Regions from separate parts of the Homo sapiens genome. Here region 2 is linked to region 1. A link means that fine-mapping ties the variant in region 1 to the expression of a gene that starts in the linked region. Tissue or cell type: whole blood. Region 1 holds a variant in brackets; the other region holds the start of a gene. All regions are shown on one strand. Distances are from middle to middle.

The links. PIP is the estimated chance that this variant, and not a neighbour inherited with it, causes the effect.
Region 2: TMEM131 starts here. The variant in region 1 is fine-mapped to the expression of TMEM131 in whole blood (TOPMed, PIP 0.97).

The regions. Positions count from the first base shown.
Region 1 is chr2:97,789,500-97,792,181 of GRCh38, reverse strand. All of the region lies in intron 31 of TMEM131 (transmembrane protein 131), which reads left to right. Among named protein-coding and RNA genes, the nearest start is that of ZAP70, 77 kb to the right of the region's middle. The variant A/G (reference allele first, on the strand shown) is at 1,477.
Region 2 is chr2:97,994,452-97,997,133 of GRCh38, reverse strand. TMEM131 (transmembrane protein 131) reads left to right here and starts at 1,186. Exons shown (of 41, transcript NM_015348.2): 1 at 1,186-1,658. The coding sequence starts at 1,472. RefSeq lists enhancers at 477-756, 927-1,440 and silencers at 977-1,226, 1,337-1,896.

The DNA of each region.
Region 1 (2,682 bases):
GATTGTTTACCAAAATCAGAAATTCTGTGGACATCTGCTTTTCTTTTCAGCTGCCTGAGATTGTGTTATTGTGATAGATTTAGCTTTTGTTTTATTGTTAAAATAATTTTGAGCACAGGAGTAAAATGGAGATCATCTGCCTTTTAACTCCAAATTAGGATTTCTTTACTTTAGAGCAGGGGTTGGCAGACTACAGTTAGCGGGCCAAATCACCACCTGGTTTTATAAATAAAGTTTTATTGGAATAGAACCATGCTCATTTGTTGGTATATCCTCAGCTTTCATGCTTCTATGGCACAGTTAAGTAATTGTGACCAAAACAATATGGCCCACAGAGCTGAAAATATTTGCTATCTGGCCCTTTGCAAAAAAAGCCAACCCTGCTTTAGAGTTCTGCTTACTGTATTAATTACCTATTTCTGAGTAACAGATGACCTCAAAACCCAGGGGCTTAAAAGAACGTATACTCTTATCTCACAGTTTCTGTGGTCAGGGACATGAGTACAGCTTAGCGGGGTCCCATGGCCCTCACAGGACACAGGACTGCAGTCAAGGTGTTGGCCAAGGCTGATGTCATCTTAAGGTTCAACTGAAGGTGGACCTGCTTCCACGTTCACACAGGCAGTTGATGGTGGGATTCAGTTCTTCACGGACTGTTGGACGGAGGGCCCAAGCTCCTCCTTGCTGGCTGTGGCCAGAGGTCTGTCATGGTTCCTCTCCACAGAGCGGGTCACAGCTTGGCAGTTGGCTCCCCCAGAATGAGCAAACAAGAGGGCAAGGAGGAAGCAGGACGGAAGTCACTGTTTCTTACTATCTAATCTGGGAAGTGGCATCCCATCAATGTTGTAGTATTCTGCTCATTCGAAGTGTGGTCCAGCCCACACTCCAGGAGAGAGAACCGCGCAAGGGCATAAATACCAAGAGGTGGGCACCACTGGGAGCTTGGAAGTCTGCACCACACACAAATAGGTAGACCAGTTTGTAAGCTCCAGAATCAAAAGGTAAAAACCAGTAAATAGCCTCTAGTTGTATTGCAATTTCATCCCTTCACAGCCTGAGCTTTTTTGCATCTTCCTTTCTGTCTTGTGGCAGCCATGCTAATATACATTATTCCAAGCCTGTATCAGTCCCTTCCAGAATGGTTTACCAAGGAGTTTTGGGCTTCAATTTATACGGAAAACAGGGATCTTGGCAGCCCTAAGAGGCCAGAAGAAACTTGACATCCCAGAGTCAAGGAGTTTTAGATAATTTTTTAGTCCCAGGAATACAAAAACTAGCTCTATTGAGTTCTCTTGGAATTACACGCATTCGGATTTGTAAAACAGTAAGATGTCTTGAATATGATTGGTTAACCTCTTCTACAGAAATCCTTTTTGGCTAACCCATTATTAACTGAGCTTACATATTTTAGGGTAATTTTTAGAATAATCTTAAGTGAATACTTAAAAGTTCTTTTTTAATTAGATCAAGTTACAT[A/G]GCGTTTTCCCCACATTTAGGGCGTGAATAAAATAAATCTGTATTATCCTTTCTTATCACAAAGAAAGAGTTGGGCAGTCAAATTGACTACCTCATTCCTGTGTCAACACAGTCTTCCAACACCAGCGTGATGGGCCAATTCTATTTTCAGGGTCACTCATTGAGAACCTAAATTTTAAAATGAAATGCTTTTTAATTTTCACAGTGGTCCTAGAGTCAACCTACTAAGAGATACTCAGTGAGGGAGCATGGATGCCACATTATTGGTGACTCTTGAGCCTGTGAGGAGACAGTGGTTAGAAGCTTTGCAGGCGCGGCTACTCTACTCACTATCCTTCCCACTGATGCTGTTTGGGAAAAAGGAAGGAGCCTGTATCTATATTTTTTTTCTTCTTCAATGTTTTTATTGAAGTATAGCATGCATATAGACAGACAGTCTTTAAAATGAACTTTAAAAGGTGGGCATTGATCTTGGGGTTGCAAACTAGTAGTATGTTGTGAAACTATAGGCTTCCAGCTGGGCAAAACCTTTATAATCTTTCAAAAGCCTACCCCCACACCCCTGCAAATAGCAGATTTACATTAAATAGTAACATTCTCTTTTTAGAGGCAACACGTTCTTTTTTTTCTCCCCCTGGTATCTCATACTAAAATTATTTCTTATAATGAGCTTATGTAGTTTCTGGTTTTTGGAAGCTGCTCAGGATGACCTCTTCAAGTGAATGTGTTTATCTCCCTGGATCTTGCCTTCTGCGGTTGGATGGCTTGCAAGCCACACAGCCATGCTATGCCATCTCTCCAGTCACTGCTTCCAGTGGAAGATGATGCCCAGAAATGCCGCCTGTTCATGGTTGGCCTGAGCAGGGACTCTTGTTGCTGAATAATCATTAGATTCTGTACTTCTTTGGTTTCTCCCCCCTCTAACACTTAAACCCCATGGACTGGACAGCAGCCACTGCAGGATTGAGGGCTAAAACCCAAGAAAGCCGTGAGCCTGGCACAGTTGGGTCTCAGTGTCTGTTAACCAGAGAAATGATGGCGTCTGTGGCCATTCTCGTTTCTGGCTTTGGCTTTATCAAGGGTAGGGAGAGGCAGAGAGGTGTGGCGTCCTGAGGCCACGTTCTGCCATTAGGCAGGTGCAGATTATATCTTGACTCCGCTCCCTTACTAACTGTGTGACTTGGGAGAAAATGACTCCCCTGAGCC
Region 2 (2,682 bases), 200 kb before region 1:
GAGTAAAGAAGGACCCCCTCCAAGAGCTTAAATTAAGTCTTGGAGACAACAGCCATGCGCACCAAGAAGCTCAACCTAAGATGAAAAGGGCATCTAAGAGGCGCGAGATGGCTCGTGAAGGTAACAGACGTCTTAAGAATTTTTCCGGGCCCAGCACAGTGGCTCACGCCTGTGATCCCAGCACTCTGGAAGGCCGAGGAAGGCGGACTGCTTGAGCCCAGGAGTTCGAGACCTGCTCGGCCAACATAGTGAGACAGCGTTTCTTAAAAGAAAAAGAAAAATTGGCGTGGCGTGGTGGCGGGTGCCTGTAGTCCCAGACCGCACCACTGCACTCCAGCCTGGGCGGCAGAACCAGACCCTGTCTCAAAAATAAATAAATAATTAAAAAATAAAGAAAAGAAAAAAAAGAATTCTTCCTCGAGAGAGGAAGCCGGCTACTGGATATTCTAAAGAGCAGTCTGTTTGCCCCTGCCTTCTCCATCCAGAGTCACCGACGCTTTCTGCACACGAGGTGTTCCGCGCCAATGTGGGCACAAGCCAAGGCAAGAGGACTCCATCAAGCTCCTCCTGGGTACCATGATTTGGAAGACCCAAGGATGAGTTCAGCGGGCCACCATCCTCAAGGAAGCACCATCAAGAACTGAGTCAGGCCCGGGGTATTCTCGACGTCAAAGCGGTCGAGAGGTGGGGGTGCCACCAGGAAGAGTCACTGGAACGGACCTTCCGCGCTCGTCTCGCGGTCTGTATGCGCACTCACACCCCTGGAAGGCTCTACCACTGTAGGACAGAGCACGGAGGATTGCCCAGGCGCCGGAGAAGAGGTTAGCGCCCCGCAACTCCGCCCCTGCCCCGCCCACGCAACGCGGCGGCTGCGCGGCGAGGCCGCCCCGTCTCCACGTGATTGCCGACACCGCCTCCGCGAAGCAGAAGCCGCCATCATAAGTCCTGGCAGCTGGACCTGGGCCTGCCTCCCTCCTTCTCCTGCGCCAGGTAGCGGTAACGGGCTGGGGTTGTTCTGTCCTGGTTCTGTCTGGCCGTGAAGCCGCAGGCCTCCGAGAGCGGGACGAGGAGGTGGGGCCCAGGGGGCTCCGGGGCGGACAGACTGACCGCCGGACAGCCCAGGTGTCGGCACAGCGTGGGCGGTGCCCAGAGCCGCGCCCCGCCCCTCGCAGGCCAGCGCTCAGGGCTCGCGGGCCGTGCCCGTTTCCAGTATGGCCGCCCGCCGCGCCTGACCCGCGGCCTCTCCGCTCCGACTGCTTGTAGGCGATGCCCAGGCAAAGACCGTGACTGACACTCTCGCTCACACGCACGCACGGACCCAGGCCCACGCTCGGAGATCGAGCCCCGGGCTCGCAACCGTTGTCGCTCCCGGCGCCGCGGCCAGAGCCCGGACCACGGCTTCCGCGCCGCCGCCGCCTCGCCGAGAAGGGCCGCGCCGGACCTCGAGCGCGGCGGCCCCCGGCCGGCAGGGATGGGGAAGCGGGCGGGAGGAGGAGCAACCGGAGCCACCACCGCCGCCGTCTCCACGTCCGCCGGGGCCGGGCTGGAACCTGCGGCCGCCCGTAGCGGGGGCCCGCGGAGCGCGGCCGCCGGCCTCCTAGGCGCGCTGCACCTGGTGATGACCCTCGTAGTGGCTGCGGCGCGGGCCGAGAAGGAAGGTGGGTGTCCCCCGGCGGCGTCCCTGCGGCGGGGCTGTCACCCCGCTCTCGCGGAGGCCGGGAGGGCTGGGCCGGGAGGAAGGGCCGCGGCCGGGGCTCCGGCGCAAAGTTGGGCGGTCGGGTACCGTCCCGAGCCGGGACCTCGCGGCGCCCGCCGCACGGAGTGGCCTTCGCTCTCCGTGATTCCTTCCCGTGCCTTCCCCCGTCTCCTGTCACTGCCATTTCAAAACTTCCTGACTTCTCGTACGTTCTTGCCACTTGGCCCGCTAGGTAGGAGGGGCATATTTTTTGGCTTTATTGCGGCGAATAGGTACATTTTAGGACACTTCTGTTTTCTTGGTTGCGGTTGGTTGCATGCAGACAGAGCTTACTTTAAAATGTGGTAAAAATAGCGAGACACAGCTTAAAAAATTTCACTTTGAATTTGTTCAGACATTTCTTCGAGGGGAAATCTTGGTCCTGTAGCTTCCTCCTTTAGTGTCTCTGCGTTATTGATAACTTTATTATTAGACCTAAATACAATTCCATTTAACTCTTTAGTAAGCTGTTGAAAGCCTGTTTACATTTCTTATTTTAAAATACGTGATTCGGTGCCTTTATCTTTGATGTGAAAGCCTTTAAAAATAAACGTGAAGTTGCCAGCTTGCAAGCATTTATCTATAATTTACAGTTAAGGGCTGGCCCCTATTTTAAAAATCTCATTAGTATTGTACTGCTGCAAAACGGGTACTTGGACAGGGTCAAAAATTATTTTGTAATCTTGAAGACCAAATCAGTGTAATTTCATCTACACTACCTCTTTTTGAGCCAAGGGACATGTGAATGGTCACAGAGCCTTCATGAAGAATTGACTAAGTGAATAGTTTAAAAAAAAAACAAACCACGCAAAACTTGTTAGTTTAGCATTGCACATGAAACTGCCTGTACAAGAAAACAATTTCTTGCCACGGTAATTTTAGAGTTAACATTCTACTTTATGACTAAAGTCACTTGCTTTTTATTGTTGCTGAAGGTGAAAGCAAAT